Regions from separate parts of the Homo sapiens genome. Here region 2 is linked to region 1. The links come from fine-mapping of genetic effects on gene expression. A gene starts in region 1. The other region holds a variant in brackets. All regions are shown on one strand. Distances are from middle to middle.

Region 1 (11,934 bases):
GTGTGTGCTCAACAATAAGTGAATGTAGGTGTCTGGAGTTCAAGGTAGGCATCCGAACAAGAGATCTGGAAGTCACTAGTATAGAGGTGGCAACAACTTCGAAGTGGATCAGACTGCTCATAGAAAGGAACAGAGTAAGAAGGGATAAGGGTGGCAACATTCTAAGGAAATGCCTCACCTGTAAATGACATTTTTAGCCAGTTCCACATGGTCCCGAGACTCACACAAATGTAGTAAGGTTATCAACTCCCCCTTCAAGATGAGCTTGTTCTGGGTCAGTTTCTTTTTCAAGTTTCTAAAATACGTTTCTGGAAGAAAGCACAGTATGGTGACCATCACTCAGGCTGACTGAGAGTATAAGGAGTCTGACCTCAGGAAGATGGGGAAGCCCAACCCCGGCTCACTGCAGAGGGGCACTGAGAGGGGTTCAGAAACACACAGCTGCCATCACTGGCCAATCTCCTCTAGAACAGCATCAGCAGATGGCATCTGTCACAGGAGGCAGGGACATGGGCACAGGGCCAGGCCCACTCAAGACTCTCTAAAATAAAATCTGTGGGGTAAGAGCTCAAGAATTGGCATTTTTGATTCCCTAGGTGATCCTCTGGTATACTAAAGTTTGAGAATTACTGTTCCAGAGGCTTGGCTCAAATAACTGAATCTCTAGGTGACTCATGAGAAAAAGAAAGAAAATGTAGCCAGACACCCAAACCGTCAACTGGCAGAGAACCAAATGGGAAAACTAAAAAGAAAATGTGAGTTGAAGGTAGGTTTGTCCACAATGGTGGACCCACATGACTCACGTTTCTTTCATTTGATTCAACTTCACCTCTTTTTCATTCCTCTTGGTCTCTTTTTACTCAGCTGTTAGAAGGCATGCCAAAGTACTATGTAATGGGCAGGGGGGAAAACAGTCCTCCAAACAGCAGCAAACAGTTTTTCAGTGACAGAATCATTTCAGTGTCATCACAGTCTATCATTCTCCCTTGTCTTTGTATCTGATCAACCGTGGGGACAAAAACCAAAAGGAGGCACCTCTTCTTGTCATCAATAAGGGGCTTTATTCCCACCAAAATGCGGGGTGAAAAGCAAAGCAGGCACCAACCAAGCATCTGCTTTCCAGAAGGCAGAACTGTTGTCAGTATCAGAAGCTGCCAGGAAATAGCTATAGGATTTGTTCCAAGAACCCAGAGCTTTGAAGGAATGCTGCTGAAAGGAGAGGCACAAATACATCTAAAACACAAGAACTAGAAGCAGAGGCACTGTTCTCAATTTAAAAGAAAAGACCTACTAGGTTTGAGATAATGCAGTGGCTCTTCCAATTTTTATTTGCAGAACCATGTAACAGTTAAAGGCTCTAGAGATGGAAGGACCTGGGCTGAAATCTAAGCTCGGCCACTTGCATTCTGATGGAGACCCTTGCTCTGAGACTTGATTCCTCATGTGTAAATTAAGGATCGTGGTACCTTCCTCACAGGGTTACCTGAGATGATATATGTAAAGCATTTGTCATTCGGTAACTGCCAGTAAATAGAAACATTATTGTTCTCATTTTCATTCCTTGTGTCACCTGTTAGATCTAAGAGGATTTAGTCTATTAAATATTTCTAAGCAACTTCCAGTCTAAAAAGTCTCAAGTCATCAAAGAGATGACGTTACATCTTGTACTCCTTAATCCTCCTTAATAAACCTTAAGAGGCCGGGTGCAGTGGCTCAGGCCTGTAATCCCAGCACTTTGGGAGGCCAAGGTGGGTGGATCACTTGAGGTCAGTAGTTTGAAACCAGCCTCGCCACCATGGTGAAACCCCGTCTCTACCAAAAATACAAAAAGTAGCCAGGTGTGGTGGTGCACGCCTGTAATCCCAGCTACTAGGGAGGCTGAGGCACAAGAATTGCTTGAACCTGGGAGGCAGAGGTTGCAATGAGCCGAGATCATGCCACTGTACTCCAGCCTAGGTGACAGAGCAAGACTCTGTCTCAGAAAAAAAAAAAACAACACCTTAAGAATCCAGTATTTCAACAGATATAACTTGTGTTTTAAAACAAATCAATCAACATTTGTTTATCATATAATCATACTCGGAAGTATCCTTCTTTGTGTGTGAGACACCAAGAAGCGTAAGGAATAGTTCCTGCCCTCAAAGAACTTAAAAGCATTTTGGGGAGGGCAAGCTAAATTTATACAAAGCTACCTGAAAACAATGATGGAGGAGGTGACACATGAATACTATAAACATAATAAGACTCTTCTGTCCTGTTACGACACCTATTACAACTCAGAGTGGACAGAAGAGTCCTGTTACAACCTTTACTATTATGACTCAGAACAGACCAGGTTGGTGAAAGTGGAGGGGTACCAGTGAGAAAGGAAAGGGCTGAAATCAGGTTGGAGAAATGGAGGAGGGGGATATTCTAGGTAAGGAAATCAGCATGAGCAACAGAACAGAACTGGGAATGACAGGTGTGGAGGGAAAAGCTGTGACTAGATCAACCAGAAACCGTCCTAGAAAGGGCGGAGTCCATCACGGGAGAGCCAGGATGCCAGAGAGATGAGTATGTTAATAGTGTGGTATACAACAGAGTACCACTGTGGGCTCTCAAAATGATGAAAGGTTGACAGGACTTTAAACATATCAGTCTGACAATAGAGCAGATTGGCACTGATTATATTAATTGCCTTTCAGAACATGTACACAACTGCCACAGACTTATGAAGACTATGACAACTGGAAATCACAACTGGATGACATGAAGCCCTAACTGCAAACCTCACATAGATCTAAAATACCTGGGTAGAAAGAAAAGACTGAAGTGAAATCTAGATTGAGCCTACTCAACTGGGGATAAATATATTCCCCCCATTCCAAAGGTTTATTTTTTTGCCCCCTATATGGTATTATATAACAGTATGATTAGCGGAGCAGCGAGAGAACATTGATTTCTGGAGGACTGAATTGTGAGGGAATGGAGGCAGAAAGTATCAGGATGGGTGCAGTGGCTCACGCTTGTACTTTAGGAGACTGAGGCGGGATACTAGCTTGAGCCTGGGAGTTCGAGACCAGCCTCAACACAGTGAGACCATCTCTACAAAAAAAAATTAAAAATTAAAAATTAGGCGGTATGGTGGCACTGTAGTCCTAGTTACTCAGGAGGCTAAAGCAGGATTGCTTGAATCCAAGAGTTTGAGGCTGCAGCGAGCTATGATGGTGCCAACTGCACTCCAGCCTAGGTGACAGAGCGAGACTGTCTCTTAAAAAACAAACCAAAACAAAGAGAATGTTAATGTGTTAATCAGGAGCTCACAAACATCTGGCAGTGAGAGGAAGGAGAGCTGGGTCTATGGTTGAAAAAGTCAGTAGGGACACCAAGAGTTATTAAAAAAAAAAGGAAAGTCTTAGATGTGTTCATAAAGGAGGATCAAGGAGGTATATCCACAACCCCCAGGGACCACTGCTGCATCCACACACAATAAAAGGTATGAAATGCTGGGAAGAACTCTATGTGCAGGAGGGAGAGAATGAATGCACAAGATTTTTCAGGTGCTGAAAGGGAAAAAGACCTAGGGTGGTGTTCTTGTTTGTAGCTTTTTATAACAAAAATTTTCAAACATACCCAAGAAATGAAAGAACAGGATAATAATCCCCCTCACTAAGTGCCATTACCCAGCCTCAATCATTATCAATATTTTGCTAATTATGTTTCCTCTACACTACAATCCTCAAACACACTGGATTTTTTTTCAAAGCAAATCCCAGATTTATCTTTTTTTTGAGACAGGGTCTCACTCTGTTACACAGGTTGGAGTGCAGTGGTGTGATCATGGCTTACTGCACCTTAGACCTCCCAGGCTCAAGCAATCCTCCCACCTCAGTCCCTGGAGTAGCTGTGACTACAGGCATGCACCACCACGCCCAACTAACTTTAAAAAAATTTGTAGAGATGAGGTCTACGCTGCTCAGGCTGATCTCAAACTCCCTGGCTCAAGCAATCCTCCTGCCTTGGCCTCCCAAAGTGCTGGAGTTACAGGCATGAGCCATCATGCCCAGCCAAATCCTAGGTTTGGTAGTCAGGTTTCTCTTGTTTTTTAAGAAATTTTTGATCCTACTGACTTTTCTAGCACAGAGTGAAAAATACCAAATGTATCATCACACATAGTACTGTTTTGTTTCATTTGATTTCATTTATATATAGATATGTTTGTGTGTACTGAGATGCAACATAAAATGCATTTTTCACTGAAGGTTACATCAAAAAGTTTGAAAGCCAATCATCTGAAGTTTTTAAACTTTATTGTGCATATGAATGATCTGGGGCCTTTCTCTCTGCACTTCTATCAACCACCCAATAGATGCTGATGCCGCTGGTCCTCAAACCTCACTTTTAATGGCACAGATTTAGACAAGACCAATCGCAGCACTAGCTTTAATACTTCTCTGGGATCGTAAGAGAAGGAATAAGAGGAGAGCTGTAGACGTTGTAGCAGCAAAGTATGAAATGCAAGATAAATATAAGAGTTCACTATGAAACTAACAATAAATGGTCTCAACTTTTTCTAAGGCATAATAAAGTCACTGAAGGAGACACTGAATAGGGATAAAGACAGAGAAACTTAAATGACAGATAAATGACAGAATTAACAAAATAGATTCTATTACCTTTAGTGCCAGAAAGATTACATGCAACAGCCACTTTCTTTTGTTGAAATTCTTTTAATTTCACCACATTATCTGTAAGTAGGTATCTTTTAGCTAAAAATCAGAGAAAGAAAAAAGTAAAGTCATTTTGACTGTTTTAGAAGTTAGCAAATAACATGAATAGAGCTGGATTACCTCTAACATCTATTATAGATAATCCATTAGACAGGTACAAATATAACTGTACAAACTGTACAAATATAAATCCTGGGAAAAACAATTTCTGAACTACCAGAGAATGCAAATCCTCAGCAAAACAGGTTTTATTTGTGTGTGTGAAAGAAGCTAGTGATTAACCGTAGCTAGTGATAAACCTGTGTGGGGACTGGTTGACAGGAAGTTGGGATTTGAAGTACAAATGGGCATTTGCCATCGGTTAAGGGTATCAAGGGCATTTAAAAAAAAAACTAATAACATTTAAATGCAAAACAGGCATATTTAGTTTTGGTTTATCCAGGGAGAAGCACAGTGTAGTGGAAAAAGCTGCAGCATGACCACTGGAACTCCCAGTTTTGTCCTCTGTGAAATGAGGGGGTTAAGGCCTCTCAGATGTGGACTCAAAATACATTTGAGATACATGGAAATCATTGATCACAGCTTAGTAGATTTGGGAAACATCATCCTTTCTTTAGGATCCTTGGCTGTGCATGAGATAAAACGGACCAAGCGTGGCCGAAGAATCACGCACTAACAGAGTTCTGTGAGCTGCAGTAACAAGGTAACAATAAAAGTTGCTATTTATTTACAGAAAGGCAGTCCAGTGAAGTGGTTAGGAGCAGGTTTCTATTGTTGGGTGTGTTCAAATCCCACCTCTAACAGTTCCCTCTGACTTTGGGCAAATTACTTAACCTTGTTCCTCCTCTGTAAATGGAGAAAAGAATGGTACTTCTCTTGCTGGGTGTTGTCTAGAGAAAAGGAATTAATGTATGTAAACTACATTAAAGTAATGCCTGACAAACATTTTTACTATCACTCACTAGCATCTTCAGATTTAACTCTCTTCATAGAGATGTTAGAGGATAGTTTTGAAAAATGAAGAAACGTGCCGTTAAGTCTTTTAGATTGTTAGCAGAACTGAGACTCCATAAGACCTCTGCTTCCAAACTCTGCAGAAAAGAAAAAGGCCGGGCGCGGTGGCTCACTCCTATAATCCCAGCACTTTGGGAGGCCGAGGCGGGTGGACCACGAGGTCAGGAGTTCGAAACCAGCCTGGCCAACATAGTGAAACCCGTCTCTACTAAAAATACAAAAAATTACCCGGGCGTGGTGGCGCACGCCTGTAGTCCCAACTACTCGGAAAGCTGAGGCAGGAGAATCGCTTGAACCCGGGAGGCGGAGGCTGCAGTGAGCCGAGATCGCGCCACCGCACTCCAGCTTGGGCGACAGAGCAAGACTTCGTCTCAAAAATAAATAAATAAATAAATAAAAGTCACCCAAGGCGGGAGGGATGTTCCTGAAGACGAACGTCGCCCCATCTGAGGGAGCACTACAGCCCCAAGGTCAATACCCCAGCAGTCCTTCGATTTGCAGGCACTGGGGGTATCCACGACCCCCAGTGGTCACCACTGCACCCACGTGCAACTAGAGGGCGAGGGTGCGCTCCAGGCCAGTGAGTGACTTAGGAGCTGTGGCTGCTCCACAGAGATGCTAGCTGGGATCTAACACTCCCTTCTCTCCCATCCCTCCCCTCCTTCCCTAGGCTAAAGCCGCGGATACCTCCGAGAGGGCAGCGGCAGCTGACAGAGCCGGAGCCTCCCACCCCAGGATACACCAAAATCTGCAGCGCCTGCAGGAGAACTCGATTCGAGGGCCGAAATGCAGCAGCCATACTGTCTCGGACCATACCAACTACTGGAACCGGGGCGAGGAGGCGGAGCGTCGGTCCTGTCGTCGAGAGCGACAAAAGGGATTCGTCCAATTCTGGGCGCCCCGAGAGGTCGAGCTGTAACCCCGCCCCTTCCTCTGTCCGTAACCCGTTGGCTGTTCCTTTTGGTACGCTCCAAGATGGCTGCCTCCATAGTGCGGCGCGGGATGCTCCTGGCGCGGCAAGTGGTTCTTCCTCAGCTCTCTCCTGCAGGTTGGCCGGACAGCTTCATTAGGCCCCTGATTATTCTGTTTTTTGGGTGAAGGGAGCGGTGGGCTTTCAAGAGGAGAGGAAACGTTTCTGGAATCTGATTGCTAGGGACGCCATTTGGGGTGTTTGGTAGTGCAGAAGAAGGAGACAAGGTATCTGATCCATTTCCTTCCCTAAAATAACAGTATGTTCCTGTCCAAAGGTACGAAGAGCAGTGGAAGGTTATATAGCATGAGGGAATTTGCGTATGATTCGCCAGATTTATGTGTTGGGGTGGTCGTGCTTTTGCTGACCACGAAAAACCCAAATGTGCGCCGGGCGCGGTGGCCCACGCCTGTGGTCCCAGCACTTTGGGAACGCGAGGCGGGCGGATCGCCAGGAGTTCGAGACCAGCCTGGCCAACAGGGCGAAACCCCATCTCTACTAAAAAATACAAAGAAATTATCTGGGCCTGGTGGCGCGCGCCTGTAATCCCAGCTACTCGGGGGGCTGAGGCAGGATAATCGCTTGAACTCGGGAGGCGGAGGTTGCAGTGAGCAGAGATCGCGCCACTACACTCCAGCCTGGGCAACAGAGCGAGACCCTGTCTCAAAAAAAAAAAAAAAAAAAAAAAAGGAAAAACCTAAATGTGTCCATTCCTGGGGCTGGGACATTTTTCTCCCATCTGAGGTTTCTTTAGAGGGACGTCAGATAAACATTTTTCCCACCACCACACATTTAGCTGGACCCCTGGTCTTCGTGGAAGAATTTTTCAGTATTAATCTCATTTTATCTGATGACCTAGAGCACAACTTTTGATTGACCTTTCTTTGCTATAGTTTTCCACGTGTAGATAATAAATGCTATTAGTTACTTGTAAAATACTTTGATATCTGAACTAAATGGCAGCCCACTCAAAGCCTGCATAGTGGATCTGATAATGAAAACATTGGAAAAAAGTTTTAAAGTATTTATAGAAGCCAAATTTGCAGTGATTCTAACCACATAATCCAGACAGACATATTTGATAAAAATGCAATAATCACACTCGATTTTTCCATTGCCGCTTATCTTCCCTTTCCAACCTACCTCCCATCCTCTATTTTTTTAAAAAGCACGCACTTCTTTAGGAACAGCCATTAAACGTCAATGTGAAACCTCAGAGTTGGCCACCAGTTTTCTGAAGATTAAGTGGCTGACCTGGTGAAAACGTTTAATGTCACACATTAGGCAGTGTTATGCACAACGCTTGACACCTTAGTAAGAATTAGCTGTTGTAGCTATTTTCTGTTTATGTGGTTTCCGTGAACAACTACACACAGAGGGCATTTTGGGAGACCTGTCTTTCCCCACAATCACCTCCCCAGCCTTTTTTTTTTTTTTCGGGTTTCGTTCTTGTTGCCCAGGTTAGAGTGCAATGGCACGATCTCGGCTTACTGCAGCCTCTGCCTCCCGGGTTCAAGTGATTCTCCTGCCTCAGCCTCCCGAGTAGCTGAGATTACAGGCATGCGCCACCACTCCCGGCTAATTTTGTATTTTCAGTAGAGACGGGGTTTCTCCATGTTGGTCAGGCTGGTCTCTAACTCCTGACCTCAGGTGATCCACCCGCCTCTACTTCCCAAGGTGCTGGGATTACGGGCGTGAGCCACTGTGCCCAGCTGGCCCAGCTTTTTAATCTCCCAGTTCAGAACTCTTGAGCAATGATCTAGATATTGTCCTGACTCCAGAATGTAGAAAGGTGATTACTTATGCTAGAATGAAGCATATGCTAGAATGAAGGCATAGAGAATAACAGATAATAAATAGAGAGTAAGCAAGTAGCTGGTATGCGGGAGTACAGTTGGCTTCCTTATCCGAGCATTCTGCATCTGCAGAGTCAACCAACAGCGGATCAAAATACTACAAAACAAAACAAAAACTAACAATAAAAAATAATACAACAGTAAAATAATACAAAGAAAATACAACATGACAACCACTTACATTGCGTTTACATTGTGTTAGGTATTATAAGTAATCTACAAATGACTTAAAGCAGCTTGTCCAACCCTCAGCCCAGGACAGTTTTGAATGTGGCCCAACACAAATTTGTAAACTTAACTAAAATATTAGGAGATTTTTAGCATTTTTTGTTTTGTTTGTTTGCCCATCAGCTATCATTAGTGTTAGTGTAGTTTATGTATGTGTGGCCCAAGACAATTGTTCTTCTTCCAATGTGACCAGGGAAGCCAAAAAAATGGACACCCCAGCTTAAAGTAATGCAGGAGGATGTTTGTGGGTTATTTGCAAATACTGTGCAATTTTATGTAAGAGACTTCTGCATTCTCAGATTTTGGTATTTGAGGGGGTATTCTAGAACCATCCCCCTGGGGCAGGAGAATTGCTTGAACCCTGGAGGCAAAGGTTGCAGTGAGCCAAGATCATGCCACTACACTCCAGCCTGGGCAACAGAGAGATACTCCATCTCAAAAAAATAATAATAATAAATAAAATTAGGCCGGGTGTGGTGGCTCACACCTGTAATCCCAGCACTTTGGGAGGCTGAGGTGGGTGGATCACCTGAGGTCAGGAGTTTGAGACCAGCCTGGCCAACATGGAGAAACCCTGTCTCTATTAAAAATACAAAATTAGGCGTGGTGGCGCATGCCTGAAATCCCAGCTACTCAGGAGGCTGAGGCAGGAGAATCGCTTGAACCTGGAAGGCCTCCGCCTTCCGGTTGCAGTGAGCTGAGATCATGCCATTGCACTCCAGCCTGGGCAACAAGAGCGAAACTCCATTTCCAAAACGAAAAAATAAATGGAAATTAATTTAAATAATTATAGTCTTTTCTTAGTTCTCCTTTTGAAAGCGTCTTTGGAAACCTTATTGTTGCCTCATTATTTAATTTGTAGAACTCAAATTTAGATATATTATTCTAGTAAAGATCTGTGTTCACAGTAAGAGAATGAACTGTGTATAAATTCACACAGATGTGTTTGTATTTGTTTATTTGTTTGAGCTGGAAAGTAGGTAGAGAATAAAAACAGCATTCCAATACTGTGTTTAATCAGCCCCCATGCTATCTAGTTGTGTTGGGCTTTTGGTCTGCTGTGACCTCAGCATAATTATCTGTCATTTTTTCTGTTTGTTTTTTTTTTTTTTTGAGACGGAGTTTCGCTCTTATTGCCCAGGTTGGAATGCAATGGCGTGATCTCGGCTCACCACAACCTCCACCTCCTGGCTTCAAGGGATTCTCTTGCCTCAGCCTCCCAAGTACCTGGGATTACAGGCATGCACCACCACGCCTGGCTAATTTTGTATTTTTAGTAGAGGCAAGGTTTCTCCATGTTGGTCAGGCTCGCCTCGAACTCCCGACCTCAGGTGATCCGCCCACCTCGGCCTCCCAAAGTGCTGGGATTACAGGCATGAGCCACTGCACCTGGCTGTTTTTCTATTTTTTTAAACAGAGTTATTGAGGTATAATTCACATGCCATACAATTCATCCATTTAAAATACACAATTCAGGCCAGGCATGGTGGCTCACGCCTGTAATCCCAGCACTTTGGGAGGCCAAGGCTGGGGGATCTCCTAAGGTAGGAGTTCGAGACCAGCCTGGCTATTATGGTGAAACCCCGTCTCTACTAAAAATACAAAAAATTATCCAAGCATGGTGGCAGGCGCCTGTAATCCCAGCTACTCTGGAGGCTGAGGCAGGAGAATTACCTGAACCTGGGAGGTGGAAATTGCAGTGAGCCAAGATCACACCATTGCACTCCAGCCTGGGCAACGAGCAAAACTCCATCTCAAAAACAAACAAAGAAACAACAAATGCAGTATACAATTCAAAGGTTTTAGTATAAACACAGAGTTCTGGAGCCATCATCACAAGCTATTTTAGGACATTTTCATTATCCCAAAAAGAAATTCCATGCCCATTTGCAATTGCTCCCCATTTCTCCTCTAGCTTTCCTGATCCTCACCTTTAGCCCTTAGCAACCATGAATCTACTTTCTGTCTCTACAGACTTGCCTATTCTGGATTGCTCATATAATGGAATCATATAATATGTGGTCTTTTGTGACTGGCGTCTTTTTTACTTAACATGTTTTCAGGATTCACCCATGTAGTATGTATCAGTACTTCATTTTTTATTGCCAAATACTATTCCATTGTAAGGATAGACCACATTTTGTTTATTCATCAATTGATGGATATTTGGGTTGTTTCCACTTTTTGTCCGTTATGAATAATACTACTGTGAACATTTGTTTACAAATTTTCTGTGGACACAAGTTTTCATTTTTCTTGGTTGTAAACCTAGGAGTGGAATTGCTGGGTGATAGAGTAACTCCATGTTAACATTTTGAGGAGCTACCAAATTCTTTAAAAAGCAGCTGCACTGTTTTATGTTCTCTCCAGTAAGGTATGAGTTTCTGGTTTCTCTGCATCCTCCCCAGCAGTTGTCATTATCTGTTTTTTGATGGTGGTCATTGTAGTGAGTATCATTCGTTTCTCCAGGTGATTTTGTTTTGCATTTCTCTAATGGCAAATTATGTTAAGCATCTGTCCTTATGATTATTAGCTATTTGTGTGTGTATACATATATATTTTACTTTTTCTTTTTTTTTTTTTTTCGAAACAGAGTCTCACTCTGTTGCCCAGGCTGGAGTGCAGTGGCATGATCTTGACTTACTGCAACCTCTGCCTCCCGGGCTCAGTCGATTCTCCCACCTCAGCCTCCTGAGTAGTTGGGACTACAGGTGCATGCCACCATGGCTGGCTAATTTTTGTGTTTTTTGTAGAAACGGGGTTTCACCATGTTTCCCAGGCTGGTCTTGAACTCCTGAGCTTAAGTGATCCACCCACCTCAGTGTATATATGTTTTTAAAGGTATACCTGTTTAAATCCTTTACCCATCATTCATTTGGGTTGTCTTTTTTTTTATTTTTGAGTTGTAAGATTTATTGAAATATTTTGGATACAAGTCTTGTACTAGATAAATGTTTTGCAAATATTTTCTCCTGTTCTTTGGGTTGTACTTTCACTTTCCTGAGATTGTACTTCAAAGCACAAAAGTTTTAAATTTTGATGAACTTGCCATTCATTCTTTCTCATTCACTCCTTGAGCTCATGTTTGTTAAACACTGCCAAAGGCTAGGCATTGTGCCAGGAGCTAGGAATAGTGGTATGCTATCTTGTACGTTAC
Region 2 (11,934 bases), 90 kb after region 1:
ATGATAGCAAAACTAGGAGGGTCTAGAATTTTTGCTGCTTCTTGAGTCTTTTAGTGGAAAGAACATCAAACTAGAAATCAGAAGATCCAGGCTGTAGCCCCACAGGCTCCCCTGGTTGCTGGTAACTTTAGGCAAATAACTGTATTCTTCTAGCTCTTAGTTTTTTCAACTCTAAGTCAAGTGGGTTGTAGTAAATCAGTGATTTCCAACTCTGGCTGCCCATTAGGGTCACCCAAGAAGCTTTTTAAAAATTGTAGATGTTTGCCTCTACTCCTGAAATTCTAGTTTAATTGATCTGTCTAGGGCCCAGGCATTGGAATTTAAAAAAATTTTTTAATAAGTTTAAATTTTTCTGTCAGTTTCGGGTTCACAGTATAGGGGAGAAAACATAATTTAGTTTCTTTCCCTTTTAGGTTCTTAGTTGAGACACTCTGCTGAAAACAAAAGTCAGATTAACAAAAGAAAAACAAGCAGAAGTTTATTAACACATGCTGTACTCATCACACAGGAAAGGCCTCAGTTCAAAAGCATTTCTATCTCAAGGCAGTGGCTTATGGCCTTACTGAATAGTATTTCAACCAAGGGCCATAAATCCTATACAGTGACAAGACGAAGGAAAAGTTCCAGTCTTTAAAAGGTGGGAAAATGTGGGAAGATAGTAAAATCTGTTCTCAGATTCCTCTGGTGCCTGCTGATGCCTTCTCTGGGCTCAGAAGCAAGTGCTGTTCTAGGAAGGAAGGATTTATGTGCTGCCATCAGGCAATTGGAGGCTATGGCAGAGTCTTCCCCTGCATTTTCAGTATCTTTAACTTAACATCCTCAATTATTTTGGGGAGAAATATTTTTGTTTCCTTCAACAGCAAAACTGAGTGGAAAGTACATAGATTTTCTATGTACTCCCTGCCCCAACACATGCATAGCCTTCCTCATAATCAACATCCTGCCCCAGTGTGGTACATTTATTACAATTGATGAACTTACGTTGACAAACCGTTGTCACCCAAAGGTCCTAGTTTACATTAGGGTTCACTCTTGATGTTGTACGTCCTATGGGTTTGGACAAATGTATAATGACATGTATCCACCATTGTAGTATCATCCCTCATCCCTGCCTATTCATCCCTCATTGGGTTTGCTTGTTTGTTTGTTTGTTTTTTAAAGCTCTCAGTTGATTCTCATTTGCAGCCTGGGTTGAGAATCACTGACCAGTTGATTTCTAAAATCCCTTTCAGCTTTAATGATTTGTCATCCTAAAATATTTTGGTTTTTAGCCTGCCCTAGGGATTAATACTGATTTGGATGACTGCTTTGAGAAATATAGACACTGGCCATGAGCTACAACCTTTAAAACAGTGGTTTTTAGACATTTTTCCATTTCGGCACACCTGAGGCTACTATATATAACACCTGGAAACAGTGAGTCAGCTCAGTGGTGATTCAGTTGGGGGTTAGGACTGTATCAAAATCTCTCAAGGGGATATGGATATAGTTTGGAAAAATTCCTCAGGTGTTTCTACTGGTTCCAAGAGGGAAGAATGGAGCCCTGTGGGGAATGGTGGTTAACATTACTGAAGAATTTGAAACAAATAAAAATGCAGCCACAATCAGGATCATTGGTAGTAAAATGAGTATGCATGAAAATCACAAGAAGCTCACTAAAAATTCAGGGTTTTGTGCCCAATTCCCACAGATTCTGGTTCTATAGGTCTGAGACGTAGGAATCTATATTGTTAAAAACACTCTGAGAAAGTCGACATCCTGCAGGTGCTAAAGGGTCCACATTTTAAGAAATCTGAATTCTCAAGTATTCAGTTGTATGACACAACATTCTAGAAACTTAGTAGCAAATATTTCTTGGCATATTTCTTGGGACCTTAAAAGCCAGGCTAAGAACCAGAAAATGCTGTGTAATGTCTGCTTTCTCATGAGAGTCTGTTTTTGTATTGTTATTCATACTTTATAAGAAGAGTCACTGAACCAGTTAGGGGGGTTGTGTGGGTTTCTTTTTTTCTTTTTTCTTTTATGTTTTTTTTAAGCTATGATGAGGTGTTAGAATTGGAGCCTTAGTTTTTACATTATCAGTTGTCTTATATCAGACTCACAACTTTCTCACCCTGACCAACAGTTCCTGTTACCAAACCTCATGAGTCATGGCTTCTGTTTCACTGTCACAGATGCTGTAAAATGATAGTCAAATATTTTAAAGCTAATGGTGGCAAGTTTTATTCTGAATAATACATAGGCATATATTACAGACTAAATTAGATAATTTTCTCTTTTTTTCCTGTTATGTTCATTTTCATTATAGGTTCAATATGGAATTTTTCCAGATAACTTTACATTCAATTTACTGATGGATTCTTTCATAAAGAAAGAAAATTACAAAGGTAAGAAACTAACCCCAGATTCAGTGTTTATAGGGCTTCCAGCTCCCAAAGGGAGGTGTACAAATGTAGGAACTTCCCCTTTTTTATTTCTTAATAACATCTCTTCATTACTCGTTTAGTCAGAAAAGTTTTGATGATTATCTTTTATGCAAAATTTTTAAAAACATTATTTTTATTTTAAGATAGAAAATATCAAAGTACATAAATGATTATGGAGGAAAAGTAAGTTAATTATACAGGCCAATCTAATTTCACTTCCCAAACTGACTGAAATGCAGAATATAAATAAAGGATAAAGTAAATTTATTTTTCAAGTATAATTTTGGATTCAGTAATGAACAGTTGGCAGAAATGAGATTTTTTTTTTCAACTGAATTTTTAGCCTATGCTCTTTTAAAATATTACTGGCTTGTTTGTTTGTGTAAAAGAAAATCCCTTCCAGGTTCTTATTTTTCTACTGACTTATTAGATGACTACCTGGTCTGCCTATCTCAGTTTCCCCATTTGCAAAAAGAACATAGAAATCCATGCGTGTGGCCTCATTCAGAACCATGACATGTGCAAAACCAGCTGGGTAGGAACAGCTGCAAATCAGTGCTATTTTATAGTTATGAATATATGTAAAAATTGGTTAAAAAAATAATTCAGTAAGTAAAAAACATTTGTTGTGCTTGTGATATGAACAGGCACTATATTTTAAGCCATTGTTAATATTCTCTGCTTTACCACCAAGTAACTACAGAAAGGAAATTGTTTGACTTGATTTTCTTGGCCTCCATCTATGTTGTAGAATATCAAGGGAAAATAAAAATTGCTTAAAGCCTGCTCTCCAGGCTTTAATGACCAGCATTAATGTGCAAACAAATATTTTATGTTACGTGTTATACTCAGGGGCTTATAATTTATGAACGAGCATTTCCCATTCCCTTCCAACAAGTATTTTAAACTGAGCCTTATTGTCCTTTTTATAGTCATTATTTTGCTGTCTTTGAAATAACACCTGAGATTTAGGGTTTCCTTTAGCATTTTGTCCTCTTCTGCCTTAACAGTGAGAAGGTACCAGAGCAGAGAATAGGGCAGTCAGACCAGCCTGTCTGCTCTGCCTGTCAGGGTGACCTTGAGAATATATGTGTCTCCTTTATGCCTTAGCTGTTCTAGCTGGTAGACATGATGCCTTAAATTTGCATCACAGTTTGAGCCATTTTCTGGTTGAACTGTCCAAAATTCTCTTGAAGTAGGTGAAGCAAATAGTATTTTATCATTATGACGATGATACTGGGAGCCAAGAGAAATGAGTGGTTTATTTAATGTCCTTCAGGACGTTGGTGCAGTAGCACCTGATTTAGTTCGTTCTGGTATGTAAAATAGAAGCTAAAGGCTGAGGAAAAACCTTGTTTGTGGAAGAACTAGGGCCAGAGCCTAAGCCCGCATATTTTACTTCTTAATTCTGCATTTTTTTAAACCATGCCCCACGTTTTAAGAGTGTTTATAGTTAAATAGAGATTTAGTAATATTACCTACAACTAATTTCCTCTCTTTTTTACTTTCATCTTCTGCTAGATGCTTTATCTGTGGTTTTTGAGGTCATGATGCAAGAAGCCTTTGAAGTGCCTTCCACCCAACTTCTCTCCCTCTATGTTTTATTTCATTGCCTGGCAAAGAAGACAGACTTCAGTGTAAGTGATCTTCCCTAAAGCAGTATTAAGAACTTTAGAAAAGGCAAGCAGGGGCTTGCTCTCAAAAGCTGGAAAAAGGTGTCTGCAGCTCTGTGGCCAGGCACAACCAGGAATGTGTGTTTATTGTATACATTTTGGTTACTGGTTTCTAACAAATGGAATTGGAGGTTCTTCCACTTGAGAGAATCTCAAAAGAAAGTCCTCGTGCATATTTTGAAACTTGAGCTAGGCTGAGTGCACCTCAGACATTCAGAAATGGGTCATTGGTAGTCACTGAGAGCTGGACATGGCATGTCAAAGAGGCAGTGAGGCAGCTAACGTTGACCATTACCTGGGATATTAAATACTAATTATTTCATTTGTATCAGTATTTTCCTAAGGTTTCTCTAGGGCAGTTCCGTTTTGGAAAGTCTAGAATATCAAGTTTTGGTTTCAGATCTTAGGTTCGCATGTTTAATCATTGCTTATTGTTGTCCTAAGAATAGCAATAGCAATAACTGATATTTTAAGTAGCACTTACTTTACACCAGGCTGTGTTCTTGTTTTAAATGTATTAATGCATTTAATTCTCACAACAACCCTAGGCAGATAAGGAGACTGGGGCCTAGAGATGTTACAGAGTAACCCCCCAGCTAGTAGGTAACGAAGCCACCTGGTAAAGCCAGTTAGTCTGCCTCTGCCATCTGCCCTTAACCTCAATTGTAAACATCAAAAATCCCAGTTTGGGTAGGAACTGAAGAGGTCATTTAGTCCAGACCACATTCTAAAGAGTAGATGGCATGTTATGCCTTTCTAAGATGAGTGTCATAGTCTTATGATATACCCCACATTCATTATTAATTCATTAAATATACTGTATTGAACACATACAAATTCCATACATTGGCAAGTGCTAGTTATGTACTGGTGAGCAAACATTTTCTGCTTACAATTTAGGAAGAACACAGAGTTTAAACAAAACAATCACAGAGATATAAAACTATGACTATCATGAACACTGCAAAGGAGAAATCTAAGAAAAGACTATATTATAGGGAGTTTTCTCTGTATTTTAAACTTAAATTGGTTAGGAAGGGCTTCCTTAAGGAAATATTTCTTAGGTTACTATTGAAGGATGACTGGTAATTAACTGGCTAAGGAGGGGAAGAACAGTCCAAAAAGAGGAAATTACATGTCCAAATACCCTGTGGCAGAAAACTTAGTGAGCAGAAATGGGCTGGAAGAAGATAGTCAGTGTAGTTACAACAGAAAATGGTAGGGAGGACGTGGGGTGAGAGGGTTGGAGAATGTAGGCCATACTAAGCCATTTTGTGTTCGTTCTAAAAACAGTGAGAAGCCCTTGAAAAGTTAGAAGCAGAGGGCATATAATAATCAAATCTGTGTTTTGATAAGGTCCTTCTGGCTGTACTGTGGATAAGCTATCAGAGCAGGGCAAGGATGGCTATGGTCAGACCATCCGAGAGACTACCATGAATCTCAGCAAGGGATAATGGTAGCATAGAGACCAGGATATGATGCAGTTAGAGAGTAGCCAATGGGCATATTTGGAAGGTAAATAACAAGATGAGGCAGGGAAGCAGGGGTCACATATTCTCTCCTCAGTTTCTGACTCATATGTCTGGATGCAAGGTGTTCCATGTGTTGTTTCCAAAAGGGAACTTTGGGAAAAGACTGGATGTTATGAGAAAAATCATTAATGTGACTCTGAACATGTTGCATTTTGAAATTGAGACAGTCACGAGATTTCACCAAGGAACTGGGGGCTTAATGGAAAGATCTGGACTGGAGATACAATTGTGGAGACTTATACTTCCATGTGTAAATGTTTGCAAATGAGCTAGAAAGCAAAAAGAAGGGAAATCAGGAATGTGTTGGACCACAGAATCCACAGGAAGAGATGGTCTGCTATGTAGAATGCTTCCAAAGGGGTAGGGTAAGATGAGGAATAAAAAAAGTCAATTAAATGCATTAGTGGCACGGGAGGCACTAAATCGTAACCTTTGTTTCCATATGAGTAATGGAGCAGGAAACCAAATTGGAATGGATTGTAGAATGATTAGAGGTATAGACAACTCTTTTAAGATGCCTAGCTATGAAGTGGAGAATAAAGCGGGGAAGTTGGGAGAATGAGGATTTGCTTTGTATTAATGGAAGAGGCAAAGCATAAAATGGAAAAACTTTGAAGGCATTGATGAAACCACACCTGAATTAGTCCATTATAGTGTCTACAATAGAAATTAAAGGCTTGGGCCAGGAGCAGTGGCTCATGCCTGTAATCTTAGTACTTTGAGAGGCCAAGGCAAGAGGATTGCTTAAGGCCAGGAGTTTGAGACCAGGCTAGGCAACATAGCAAGACCTCATCTCTACAAAAATTGAAAATAAAAAAAATATTAACCAGGCATGGTGGCACATGCCTATAGTCCTAGCTACTCAGGAGGCTGAGTTGGGAGGATCCCTTGATCCCATAAGTTTGAGGTTACAGTGAGCTGTGATCACACCACTGCATTCCAGCCTGGGCAATAGGGCAAGACCCTGTCTCCAAAGAGAAAAAAAGAAAAGAAAAGAAACTAAAGGCTTGGAAGATATCTGTTAATTTATGTTGACACATGAATAGCTTCATATAAGCAGCAGTAGTTCCAGCAGCCCCAGACAATGATCAGAAAATTTCTAAGACAGTCATTGGTTTGTTTTCATTCATCTTTTTTGAAGTCCTTTAGAAGTATAACCATCCCAGTCACTGTCACCACCCCTGCTCGACTCCTAACACATCAAAGGTATCTAGTGCTTAGATATTTTAGTGTTCATTTGGCTTTAACCCCTACTACAGCCTGTTACTGTAGCTCATGTTTTTCCCTACAGGGGGAAAAATGTTTGTAAGGCTCCTTATTTATTATTTGTCGGCCCTACTTTTCATGCAGTTTTAGGTGGGGAAAATCAAACTTCTTAGTTTTGAAAGTAAAATGACCTGGTTTTTAATTACCAGCTCTTTTATTTACCTGTGCTGCAGAAGTGCTTGGGGGGGG[GC/C]GTTGTTTTTCTTCTGAGGTCTTTGCTTTTCTCAAAGACTGGGGAGCAGCCTCAAGAAATGACACTTGTATTGCACAAAGCCTACTTACAGTAAAGAGGTTTGGGTGCCTATGAACATCTGGGGTGCCTCACTTGCCCGTGGTTGTAACTGCAGCCTGCAGACATTATTCATTCTCTGCTTCCTCCCTAATCTCTTGGTGCAGAGACCAGTGCAGGGCAACCTGAGCTTAGTGTTCTATGTTTTGAAGCCAGAGTTAGGGCTCCAGCTCTGTCCACTGTGTACTCATGTGGCACCAAGAAGATCACAGATCCCACTGGGGAGTTGCCAAGGCTCTCCCCTGGCCGCATTGCCAGGAAGTCCTCCAGTCATCGTTGTTACTAGTCTGCAGCAGGTGTAGCAATGCTTGTGTTTTTGCCCTTTGTTTCCCCCATGTCTCTAAAGACTTCATTTTCATTAAAGCGTAATTTTGCACCCTGGGCTGAAAGAAGCGATCACTGTTTCTGACTGCCTAATTTGTTTTTGAGAAGCACAAATCTATCTAAAAGCAATTTAATAGTGGTATTTATTCTAACACTCTGAAGGAGTCTTATCATTGCTAAATTCTTTAAAATTCAAAAGCTTGTTCCATCAGGCCACAGCAGTATGAGTGACTGTGGGGCTGACAGCATGTTGAATCTTGATTGTCTCGAGTGTCGGTTTAAAGTGTACTCTTTATTTGTGTTTTGTTTTGCTTTTCTGATTGTAAAAGAAACGCTTATTCATTGCCAAATTTTTGGAAAATAATAAGATATACAGGGAATAAAACCAAAATTACTCATAATTTCACTGCCCAAAAATCCATTAACATATAGGGTATTTCTTTCCTATATTTTTCTTTGACGTAAGTACCTTTTAATCCCAAAATTAGGATTATAATGTATATATAGCTTTGTTCTTCTTTGTTTACTTAATGCTATAACATGTTCTTTTCCTCATGTCATTGAAAGTCACATTTTTGTATAAAGTACTCATTGCTTAGATGGATCATGATCCAGTATATTCTGTTGCAGTGGGAAGAGGAGAGGAACTTTGGTGCATCCCTTTTGCTTCCAGGCCTAAAACAAAAGAACTCAGTGGGTTTCAGTTCCCAGTTGTATGGCTATGCACTTCTTGGTAAGCTAAATGATCCTTACAAATACTGTTCTTCATGGTTAGAATTGTTGCATTCTTCCAGTTCATAATAAAATTGTAATTTGATTTAAATTTACCAGTGAAATCCAATTAGCCTTCGTTTTTAGACATAAAAATAGACCTTGATGGCCTTACAGTTACTCCATAAGAGAGTAAAGAGGGTTCTTAAAACCTGCCATCACTGGCAAAGCAAGAACTAGTTCTGGTGGATATAGGTAATAATATTCAGTGGTAATCAGTCTGAAGAAGGGATAAAGAAAGGGATGTTCTGGCCCTGTTTAGGGAGACTAGCTAGTAGAATCTTTTCCAGTATTAACAAAGATCTTTCTGTCTCTTTAGATCTAAAGTCCAGAAGGTAAGAAATTAAGAGTTAGAGTTGAACTTGTATCTTTGGTATTGTTTTCAGGTAAGGGAAGATAAACTAAGAGCAGAAGTAGTAGCACTTCAGGAAAAGTGGAGTGGTTCATGGGTACCATGTGATTGCACCAGGAGGTGCAGTGGTGGCTTTCCTCTTGTGCCCTGATTGCATTGAAAATCAGACAGGTTAAGAGGACAAAGCCTTCTGAAGAGTGGCCTCGGAACCTGGGTTGTGTGGAATCTGGGTAAATAAGATTCAACCTAAATGTAACGTCCCGATTTACAGACGTTTATTAAATTTATGTTATTTCATTACTCTCCCATCGTCTCTTAAGTAGTTAGGCATCTCTCAATTATACATTGCTTCTGCTTACCTTTGTTTTTTAAAAATCATAAAGTTATAGCAGTTTGACTGCTTTTGAAGTTGATCTTTGCCAACAGAATGTAGTGTGTTATTCTTGGTGCTGATTCTGATATAATAACTCAGGAACTTCAGAGTTTATTGACTGTCTATCAGACTAACAAAGGAGTTGACCACTCTTTTTAAAAATAATTTTTTCCTTATTTGCCACCTACTTTTGATATTGATTTACATGTATTTTCCTTTGCTTTCAGATCAGCATTCAGGACTGTCATACAGCCTGAATTGGTCAGAAGTGACAGGGCAAAGAATATGTACTTTGTTGTGGTTTGTGAGCAGAGGCCCTGGTTCTTTGTGATAGCAGCCATCAGATCAGAAGCTCTTTGCTCTCATTGTGTCATTTGCCGTGCAGCCTCACTCAGCCCTGATGGAAGCAGCTGCCCAGAATGTAACTGCAGTCCAGCCCCAAGCACCTTAAAGGTCTAAAATTAGCTGTCGCCTGATAAGCTTTGTCTGTTTGTGTCCTACTCTGGCTTTCCCAAATCCTCCTTCCCAGGAAAGATAAAAGAAGGTGGATTTAAGACTGGGCAGCTCAAGGTGACTTTGGTCATTAGTGCAGCCAGGTTCTGTGCCACAGGAATACAGACAGCCATCTCCCTACCAGAAGACCCTGCTGTCTAGCATCCACATCTTGAACTCCAGGTGTGATGGCTTGAGGTACCCAGAGAAACATTCATGTCCAGAGATCCAAAAAGATCATGAGAACTCTGTTATTTTAAAACTGACGAAACTCAAAGGAAAGAAGGGAAAGATGAGGGGTTTTTTTTTTTCATAAGGATTGGGTGTTTTGAAGGATTTCAAAAAATGACAGACATTTCCTAGCAGGGAAAGTTGTCGGATGTTGACAAAATTTTCACAGTGGGAAAGCTGTGAGATTTCTTTTTCTGGGGAAGATTTTGTTCTTGAAACAAAAATTGTATCTCAGTTGACTTGTTTTTTAAGAGTATCCTTACCTAGAGCCATATATGTCAGCCTCTCAATTGCCCTCAGCCCAGTGGTTTATATATACATCCTCAGCCCAAATGAGAAAGAAGAAAACTAAGTTCATGTAATTTTGCATTACAAAATGGATACAGTGAATTTTACCACATTCGTCATTATCCATCTGAAGTGTCACCGAATGAGATGAGTCTGTTGGTACAGATTTAAAATGATCCTTCTCTATTTCTAGTGCTGCCAGGTGAACATTCACTTGGGCCTTCAGGTCCTCAGTCTTAGAAATGGTGGGAAGACATGGCTGAGCATTCTTTATTGTTCTTTTTGGCCACAGGGAAGGTGGAGTTGCAGCAAGGGCTACGGGCTGTGTACCACAACATGCCTCTGATATGGAAACCAGGCTACCTTGACAGAGCCCTTCAAGTGATGGAGAAAGTGGCTGCCTCCCCAGAAGACATAAAGCTGTGTAGAGAAGCGGTATGTTCTTCAGCTCTAAGGCAGTGAGATTTAGCCATCTGTTTCCCATAACCTGAGCTTTAAATTTGTTTTCATTGTCTTTCCACTACCCCTACTTTCTATATGTCTATAGAATAGGTATTTATCAAGTCGAAAAAATGCAAAACCACAAACATTTTCAATGCTCCTGACCAAAGGCACTAGAAAATATGATTAACATTGATTTATAGTTCATTGTCTAGGAAAAAAAAACTATTCCACTGCCTCGTCCCTCACCTCCTTACCAAAAAAAAAAAAATCTCAGTGGGAACTCAAGAGAGGGTAAAATTTCATTTTAAATATGTTTGGTGTTTTTGTAATACCATGTAGTCCTGAGAGGCTACATAGCATCTTTCCCCATAAAAGTCCTCAAGAAATGAATCTGGGGACCAGAGATGGAACCATCTTAAACCATTCTGTGTGAATGTGTGATGCTGATGAGATCTCGGTCAGATGTTTCTTTCAAAGTTCTAAGGTGTTCACTTTACCAGGACGAGAACACTACTCTCCCACCAGCCCCAAAGCTCATGCCTCTTGGTCACCTAGGACCCTTGATGGTATGAGGTTGCTCGAACTCCAGGAGACATGATGCGCCTTACACCCCACAGGCAGCTGCAGTGTCTGCTCCTGTCCAAACAGCTTTTACAGCCAGTGTGAGTCCTGAGAAGGACATTGGTTGTCTTGTTACCATGGCTTAAAGGTCACCGTAGAGCCACATATTTGTTTTTTCTTGACTCTGGTTGCTAGAGTCATCCCTTGGCTTTCATTTCAGTCCTGAGGTGGTCAGGTCTGGTGTCTGTCCTGTCACCTTATACTTATGTCTAGTGAATCATTATGCTCTTTGCCAGACGTTTATAACAAAGGATATACATTTCTCACTATACTTGTTTTAACCCTGCTGTAGTCAGTACTGGTAATTGAAAACACAAAATTATACATAAATCCTTTGCCAGGGAAATATTCCTTCCAATCTCAGCCAGATTTGCATTCTTTGCATTCTAACAGTAGAAAATGAGTTCACATGTCAGCAAGAATGTGCTATGTGTCCAGTTTGGATGTGATGTATTAGTGGTATTAAAAGGCCTTGGCATATTTTTAGGATTTCTGTTCTGATATGACATAGACAGGATTAATTCGTTTCAGGTAGGTGTTTCTACTGGCCTTGCTGTTGTTAATATCCCATTTCTGATGATTAGGCCCTCTGTGGGTCAAGGGAGATATACCTCAAAGTGAAAGTAGAGGGGAGAGGGGTCAAAACAAAAATGCTCTATTTTTAAATTTACTTCCTAAGTCACAGAAATCACCTCATTCAAATGAATTTCATGTCTGCATCTCTGGTCTTTGCCAGCAGCTTATGTGGATTACACTGATCCTTAATTTACAGATACCATGTGAGCTAAAAATCTTTCTGAGGGGGACCCTTGCCTGTATCCAGAGGCTTTAACATACACTTAAAATGGCCTTTGG

Evidence for each region. PIP is the estimated chance that this variant, and not a neighbour inherited with it, causes the effect.
Region 2: its variant is fine-mapped to the expression of PTCD2 in whole blood (TOPMed, PIP 0.97).

What each region holds. Positions count from the first base shown.
Region 1 is chr5:72,314,986-72,326,919 of GRCh38, reverse strand. PTCD2 (pentatricopeptide repeat domain 2) reads right to left here and starts at 6,547. Exons shown (of 10, transcript NM_024754.5): 1 at 6,411-6,547; 2 at 4,656-4,748; 3 at 179-308. The coding sequence starts at 6,537. MRPS27 (mitochondrial ribosomal protein S27) reads left to right here and starts at 6,680. Exons shown (of 11, transcript NM_015084.3): 1 at 6,680-6,771. The coding sequence starts at 6,699. RefSeq lists enhancers at 6,349-6,558, 6,619-6,948, 6,547-7,087, 7,088-7,629.
Region 2 is chr5:72,224,572-72,236,505 of GRCh38, reverse strand. MRPS27 (mitochondrial ribosomal protein S27) reads left to right here. Exons shown (of 11, transcript NM_015084.3): 6 at 2,309-2,387; 7 at 3,948-4,063; 8 at 8,138-8,240; 9 at 10,307-10,449. Among named protein-coding and RNA genes, the nearest start is that of MIR4803, 61 kb to the right of the region's middle. RefSeq lists an enhancer at 1,950-2,244. The variant GC/C (reference allele first, on the strand shown) is at 7,087.